2 linked regions of the Homo sapiens genome follow. The protein of the gene in region 2 purifies or fractionates together with the protein of the main gene of each other region. This does not show direct contact. Each region holds a gene or a part of one and is shown on either strand. Other genes may lie near its edges. The genes, in order: ZNF346 and ZNF316.

Region 1 (3,806 bases), on a different chromosome or scaffold from region 2:
CGTGTAATCCATATGTGCATACTGGTATTTTAAAACATCACCAACATATTAACAGTATTTCTCTCTTGGTGTAGGATTTAGGTGATATTTTACTTTCTTCTTTGTATCTTTTGCAATTGTTTGAAGTGGAATTATTCATAATGAGTATGCATTGTTTTTATAAAAACATGAAAGTTATTTAAAGTAGTCTATGTTTATATGCACATATACACGGAGTTAACCTAGATATACACAAAACGAATATACACACAGATATACAAAGATACATATAACAATAAGATTATAGGAGAAACAGATTATAGGAGAAACCAAAATGTTAACAGTGTTTATCTGTGAATGGTAAAATTATGGGTAACTTTTCTTTCCATTTATCCATGTTTTCCTTATCTCTTACAACATGATTATATTACTTTACATTAAAAAGTGTTTAATTTCAGAAATATAGTTATAAAGTTGTGTAATAACATGGAAATGTGCTTAAGCTGTAAAATTAAATGAAAAGTAAAAGCGGGATATAAAGGGTACCTGCATTATGATCACAACTATATAAAAACAAAGTATGTGGCAAAAGCTGAAAGTGAATATGGAAAATAATCTCGAGTATGAAATTTCAGGGACAAGGCATAATGCAGAGAATTTTCCCATTTGTGGGAAGAGAAGTCTGTGACCTTATAAAATTGGTTTTTTTTTTTTTTTTTTTGAGACGAGGTCTTGCTCTGTCCCCCAGGCTGGTGTACAATGGTGCGATCTCAGCTCACTGCAACCTCCAGCTCCCGGGTTCAAGCGATTCTCTTGCCTCAGTCTCCCAAGAAGCTGGGACTACAGGCTCGTGCCACCACACCCAGCTAATTTTTGTTATTTTTAGTAGAGATTGGGTTTCACCGTGTTGACCAGGCTGGTCTTGAACTCCTGACTTCAAGTGATCTGCCCACCTCAGCCTCCCAAAGTGCTGGGATTACAACAGGCATGAGCCACCATGCCCGGCCTATGTCCTGTGTTTTTAATACACATTATTGTATCCTCACAACCGATGAAGTAGACAGTATTATTATCATTTTATAGGTTAGGCAGTTCAGACACAAAAAAGTCATATAAACAGTAACAGTGCCAGGCTTTAAACCTGGGACTCTGTGACTTCAAAGTCCACATTCTGCTGTTTCATACCATGAATAACTAGATGTGGGTGTGATAAAAAGGTGTAATTATGAGTGGCCAGGTGTGGTGGCTCATGCCTGTAATCCCAGCACTCTGGGAAGCTGAGATGGGAGTATCACTTAAGGCCAGGAGTTCAAGACCAGCCTGAGCAATATAGTGAGAAGCCATCTCTATTTAAAAAAAAAGGTTTTGGCCGGCGTGGTGGCTTATGCCTGTATTCCTAACACTTTGGGAGGCCGAGGCAGGTGGATCACGAGGTCAGGAGTTTGAGACCATCCTGGCTAACACAGTGAAACCCCGTTTCTACTAAAAAATACAAAAAAATTAGCTGGGCATGGTGGTGGGCACCTGTAGTCCCAGCTACTTGGGAGGCTGAGGCTGAAGAATGGCATGAACCTGGGAGGTAGAGCTTGCAGTGAGCCGAGATCATGCCACTGCACTCTAACCTAGGCAACAGAGCGAGACTCCATCTCAAAAAAAAAAAATTATGAGTGATTTTTCACCCTACCTTTGAAGGCTTCCAAAACACAGTTGTCAGTAAACACAAAAAGGATAATAGTATTACTAATAGTGTAGTCTACTTCTTGGTCCAAAATAGAGAAGCAAAAATTATCAAGAAAACAATGAAATAAACATCAAAGAACTTTCACTCTTGACTAATTGCAATTAGCAGAGGTTAAAACCCCAGAAAGTCAGGAGTTAATGAGATGAAAGTGAGGGCTGAGCCCTAGTCGTGACGAGATAAAGGGGGCTATTTCAGAAGTCACTGTACTGGGAATGAATTCATGGCAGTTACAGATTGTGGGGCAGTAGTAGCAGCACTGAAGTATTCAGCTTTGAAAGGCAAGTCCCTGTCTTGAGGAGAACAGGCAGCTTTTGAGGATTAAAGTGAGTAGGCCATAACCTGAGCATGTGAAAAAGACAAGGATTTAGCTTTCAACTTGGAACATGCAGTAATAAGGGCAGGTGGATGCTGGGATGGAAAAATCTAGTGGGAGAGGTAGGAGATAGAATGCTCTCATGGTATGCGTGGCCTGGAGGACTTTGGCACTCCTGAGTTATAATTATTAGTCAGGACAAAAGCTCAGCCTATAGAGAAAAACCTATAACCAAAGAAAGGGAGGTTAGGTGAGCATAATTCTGAGATTGCATTTCAGTGAAGCTGGGTCTACTTGGAGATTTTTAAGGGTTCTCAAAAGCAATTCAACTTCTTCAAGTCTGTGGCCTCAGTGAGGATCTCTGTGAGCCCCTGGCAGTAGTGCCCTGAGGACGGCAGGGGTCCCACTATAGCACTACTCAGGAAAACCAGTACCTTCCACCTTAGTGGACTGCTGCTTCAGCTTTAAGTTCTTTGCGTGGGTCTTCCCCAGGTAGTGCGACTGGGCCACGACAGGGGAGGAAAAGGTCATGTTACAGATGGGGCAGCACTGGTTCTTGTCTTTGCTTCTGCTGCTCTTCTGGTTGGAAGAAAGAACACAGGTCTGATCATACCACTGCCCCACCAGAAAATCTTCAATGGTTCCCCACTGCCCATAACAGAACAGGCATTTATGGCCCCCCTCACACATTAACCCCAACCTACTTTCTAGATTCTTCTCCAGCTACTTTGTCCCAGACTCTACTCACCATCCCCCACTTTATTCTCTGATGCTTCCTTGCTTTGCTTTGGCCATTCCTGCTGTCTAAAATGTGCTTCCTTCCTTTCCTGCTTGGCAGCGTGTCTGCTTAGCCTTCAAGACCCAATTTAAATATAAGCTTTTCCTCTGGGGGACTTTCTCTCAAAAAAAAAAAAACATCATTCAGTAAACAACTGTCAAGTCCCTTTGTGTATTCCAGGAAGAATTAACCCTGCTCCTCTTCTGTGCTCCCAGAGTACATTAAATAGACCTCTGTCATACCACTTGCCACCCTAAACTGACAGTGTCATAGCTTAGGAGACTTTTCTGTGAACTCAAGTGTGACATTGGAACACGGACTATTTGACTCATTTTTGTTTCTTATCCTTCACACCCAGCTGGAGTCTGGCACACAGTAGATGCTCAGAGTTTGCTGAACAAGTGGACCATTAGGTTTTTTTTTTTTAAGACAGGGTCTCACTCTGTTGCCCAGGCTGGAGTGCAGTGGCACGATCTCGGCTCACTGCAACCTCCACCTCCAGGGCTCAAGCAATTCTCCCACCCACCCCTGCAAGTAGCCAGACTACAGGAATATGCCACCACACCCGGCTAATTTTTGTATTTTTTATAGAGACGGGGTTTCACCATATTGCCTAGGGTGGTCTCGAATTCCCAAGCTCAAGCAATCCGCCTGCCTCAGCCACCTAAATTGCTAGGATTACAGGTATGAGCCACCGCACCCAGCCTCCCATTGCGTTCTACTTGTTGATTATGATTAGGCTAGGAAACCATGTATTTCAAGACTACATAAAGGGATCCCAGCATCTCTCTCAGAAAGCCTGATCTCTGAATAGGGTGCAAATATGTAAAATAACTTGCCCAGGGTCATAGAGTTTATCTTGCCTTTCTGAATTATAAATTGTGAGAAAAGGGCCAGGTGTGGTGGCTCATACCTGTAATCCTGGTACTTTGGGAGCCTGAGGTGGGAGGATCACTTGAGACCAGGAATTTGAGACCAGCCTGGGCAACAAAGCG
Region 2 (4,525 bases):
CTGAGGACCATGGCCACGCTCAGTCCCACCCACAGAAGCTGGTTACTTCTCAGGCCCTACTGGCTGGTGCCCTGCAAACCAGGGGCCTTGTGTTGCCAGAACTTCTGATTTTTCAGATTTTATTTATTATTAGAGACAGGGTTTCAATCTGTTGCCCAGGCTGGAGTGGAGTGGTGCTATCATAGCTCACTGCAGCCTCAACCTCCTGGGCTCAAGCAATCCTCCCACCTTGTTTTCCCAAAGTGCTGGGATTACAGGTGTGACCCGCCTCGGCCCCCCAGAGTGCTTAATTTATAGGTGTGAGACCCCGCATTAGAACCTGATTTTTCAATTTTATTTTTTAAACAAGAATGGGACTCCTTATTTTAAAATGTTATTAACTTTAAGACATTTTAAGACACCAAGAGCCAAGCGACATCACTGTGAGGGTCTGATTCAAGGGGTTGGGGCTGCACCCCTCTGTGGGACTAAGGTTTGAGTCCTCCTCTATCTTATTATTATTTTGAGACAGAGTCTCACCTTGTCGCCCAGGCTGGCGTGCAGTGGTGTGATCTCGGCTCACTGCACCCTCTGCCTCCCGGCTTCAAACGATTCTCCTGCCTCAGCCTCCCAAGCAGCTGGGACTACAGGGGTGCGCTACCACGGCCGGCTAATTTTTGTATTTTTAGTAGAGATGGGGTTTCACCCACCATGTTAGCCAAGCTAGTCTCGAACTCCTGACCTCGTGATCCGCCCGCCAAGACCTCCCAAAGTGCTAGGATTACAGACACCGTGCCTGGCCGAGTCCTCCTCTATCTCTTGCCCAGTCAGGCCTGGGGTCCCCACAGAAAAGCACCAAGAACAGTGGTGCAGGCGGGCTGGGAGCTGGGGAAGGGGCCCAGGCCACACCATTCCAGGCGGAAGACAGACCCTGGACTCCACCAATGCCAGAGCTCATCCTGACACCCCAGCTGCACCTCTTGGGAGCAGGTGCAGACAGGCTTGTGGGTGGGGGTCTGGGGGTGGCCGCTGAGCTCACCGACCCCTCCCTGGGTTCCTGGGGTCGCCTGTCACTTCTGCCCCCACACTGGCCATGCCCTCTGCCTGGACATCGCTTCCCTGCCCGTGACCCCATGTCCCTCCAAGTGCGGGCTCCACAACCCCAGTCTCCTCCTGCACTCAACCGCCACAGTCCACCCATAAGACGTTCACCCCGCCCGTCCCTCCTCCCTCCCCACCCACAAGACGTTCACCCCGCGCGGGCCCGGGGATCTGGTGGAGGCGTGGACACCTGGCCCCCTCCCCACCACAGGGGTCGCCTCCTCCCTCCACCATCCTGGGGTCCCGGGCAGGCTCCGTGGACTGGCGGAGGGGGCCCAGCGCGGGGCCTGGTCCTCAGCGGGCGCCCCGATGAACGAGGCCGGGCTGGGGTTCGGGGAAGGCGGTGGTCGCAGCGGCGGGACCTCGGGGTCACCTCCGAGACCTGGCCAGGGTGTCCAGGAGCGGGGCGAGGTTGTGGGCGCCCCACGAGTGTCGAGGGCGCTCCCGTCCCCTCCCCGCATGCCCCGTCCTCGCCCCGGCCCGAGGCCCAGCTGGGCAAACCCCCGCAACCCGCGCTTCCCCGCTCCGCGCCGCTGCCCCCGCGTGACCGGAAGTTCCTCCCCCCGCGGGCGCGGGCGGGGCGGGGCCGGCCGGCGGTACTTCCGGTGCCCACGCGCCGCCGTCGCGCAGCTCCCGGGCCGTCACTTTGTGTAGCGCGGGGTCCGCCGCCGGCCCGCAGGCCCCGGCCCCGGTGTCCGGCCCGTGGCTCGGCCAGCCCGGCCCGCGCGGTGAGTGGGTCTCGCGGGGCCGGTGGGCGGCGGCGCGGGCGGCAGGTGCGGGCGGGCCGGGCTTGCGCTCGGGGGCGGCGGCGGCGGCGGGGCCGGGCTGGCCCTCGACGCCCGGCGCGGGGAGGCCGCGGGGAGGCGGCGGGGCCGGGGCCTGCAGAGTCGGAGCGGAACGCGGGTAGGGACTTCCGCGGCAGCGCCCCCGCCTCCCGGACCCCCGTCCGGGCCTGCGCGTTGCCGACCCCCGGGGCCGGTCCGGGCAGGAGGCGGAGGGGGCAGGCCCGGGAGGCCACGCGTGACACCTCGGGGTGCCCGCCCACGCCTTCTCGGCCGCAGCGGCAGGGGCTGGGCCGCGGCCGCCCCCAGGACACACCCATCCAGGAGGGGCTGTCATCGTCTAGGTCTCTGCAGGAGGAGGCGGCTCCGGACGCCCCCTGGGGGGCGGGAGGCGCTCGGCCCGTCGCCCCAGGAGCCCGCTTTGTGACCTTGGGGGCCTTATCCGGGCTTTCCCTCATCTGCAGAAGGAGCCCCGGTGGGCTGCTCGGCTGTCTTCTGCTGCCGGCAGGTAGGTAGGGACACCCATCCCTGGGATTGGATGGGGTCTGGGCTGTCCCGCGTGGCAGCAGAGGTAGGAAAGGGGCTGGGCTTTGGTCGAGGACCCGATGGGCAAGAGGAAGTGCAGGTACCAGGAGGATCAGGCCCCCAGCTCTGCTTGTGTGGGGAGACCTCGGTGCTTGGTTTGGTTCAACAAGTGTGGGCAGGTCTGGGGGCCGGGTGGGGTGGTGAGGGGGCTACCCTGGGGAACCTGAGATGGCCCCCGTGGAAATAACCTGCACCAGGAGCAAACCCAGGAAAGTAGGGGGATCCAGAATCCGAGGACAGACAGTGAGGACTGTGGTGGTCGGGGAAGGAAGTCCTTCAGGAGGGCATGAAGACCCGAAGGGCTCTGAGGGCAGCGGGGGCCACCCAGAGGGAATGAAGGGGGCTAGACACAAGCACACCCCCACATCTCCCGCTCTCTGAGTTGGGTTTCCCTGGCTTTGGAGCTTTTGTGAGGAGTTTCTATCAACTTTCAAGCTTTGCCTCTTCTTCCTGCCCTTGCCTCGCTCCCTTCTCCTCTTGGGAGATACCTTGTCACCTCCCATTCTAAATGTTGGCTGCAGCACCGTATCCTAGAGTGCAGGGCCCTAGTAGAAATGAGGGTTTGGGGCCGGGTGAGGTGGCTCACGCCTGTAATCCCAGCACTTTGTGAGGTCGAGGCGGGTGGATCACCTGAGGTGGGGAGTTTGAGAAATGAGGGTTTGGGATGACGTTGGTGAAGCTCCCTGTGGCCTCTGGTTTGGGATTGATGCTGATGAGACCCCCTGTGGCCTCTGACCCAGAGTTGGATGCCGAGGGAGAAGTGAGCAGTGTTTACAGTGGACTGGCAGGCTGGCAAGAAGAGGGCAAGAGTGCAGGCCTGGGGGAGGCAGAGATAACCCAGGGGGAGTTGCTGGAATCTAAACTCTGCCCGGACTGCTGAGGTCCGTTTTTCAAACCATTATGTTCTGAATCTTGGGTTGGGGACGATGTCTGGCTGTGCTTCTGACCTCTGTAGGAGCTGGTCCTCCACCTTCTCTGGTCATCCGTGGGTGGACTTCTTGGGAGAAAGAACTCAGTGTCGTCTTTGGAGGCAGAGACTCTCCACTGCTTCTGGGGTGAGTTCCAATTCCAAGGGTCCCCCCAACCCCCTACCCCCAGCAGTGGTCAGTCTGTTCTGGAACAGGACAGTAGGGCCAAAATGCTGAGTTTGAAAAATCCTGTGTCCATCACATTGGCTGGCGACTTTAGACATTCTTTTAGTAAGTATTTGAATGCTTCTTAAGTGCTGGTGTGAGGGGTATTCAGACATGAGCAAAGGGAGCTTCTGCCGCCCAGGAGCTGGCTGTACTCAGGGAGAGAGATGATAAGACAGTCTCATAAGTGTATTTTTAAGATGTGGTGAGTGCTGTGAGGGAAGAATTACAGGGAACTGTGTCACCCACTGGGGCCCAGGGGGCTGCCTCAGAAGACCACCCAGGAAAAGGGGAAGAGAGTTCTGGGGATGGGGAATAACACACACACGGCCTGAGATGAGATGAACATGCAGCCACTTTATTCCAAAGCTGTGAAGTGTTCTTCTGTTGTGTCCTCATATATGGCGGCCTGGCTCTGGGAGTTTAAAGTTGCTGCTTCAGGTGGTGGCCAGGCAGGAGACAGCTCTACTGAGCTTGGCATGGCACCTAGGCCCAGCCTGAATCTGCGGCCTGAGGCTTGAAAGAGAAAAGCCCTCCTCTGGGCCTCAAGTGGGTGGCAGTTGGGAAACCGTTGCTGCGTGTACCCAGCGCCCTGAGTGCTGGGCAGGGCCGTGTCCTCCTGGAGGTGGCTAGCATAACACGCAGCACGTGGATTTCGACACTTTGGGCATCTTCACACGCCAAAGAGCTGTGGACACTGAGAAGGTTGGCTTCTGGGAGAGGCTGGAGGTTGGGGTGGCGCTCCCAGGCGTAGTTCTGTGACTTGAGTCTTTGGGGGTTAGTGATTCTGAAACTAGAAAGGGGGCTGGAGCCAGTCAGGGGGCACGTGTGACCTTCGGGACAGAGGTGGCTTCTGGATGCCTGTGTGTCCCAGCCTTTGACTTGGGTGAGCCTGTGTGAATGCTCAGAGCTTCCTGGCTATTAAAGTGTGGATTTTAAAGCAAC

Evidence for each region.
Region 1: the proteins of ZNF316 (region 2) and ZNF346 purify together in Homo sapiens (co-immunoprecipitation; one large-scale study listed by IntAct). This does not show direct contact.

Annotation. Positions count from the first base shown.
Region 1 is NC_000005.10:177,043,195-177,047,000, reverse strand, and holds part of ZNF346 (zinc finger protein 346), read right to left. Parts: intron 3,275-3,806; exon of another isoform or gene 2,785-3,274; coding exon of another isoform or gene 2,782-2,784; intron 2,613-2,781; coding exon 2,468-2,612; intron 1-2,467.
Region 2 is NC_000007.14:6,635,640-6,640,164, forward strand, and holds the start of ZNF316 (zinc finger protein 316), read left to right. Parts: upstream 1-1,678; 5' UTR 1,679-1,808; intron 1,809-2,206; 5' UTR 2,207-2,370; intron 2,371-3,402; 5' UTR 3,403-3,502; intron 3,503-4,525. UniProt on the Homo sapiens protein: May be involved in transcriptional regulation.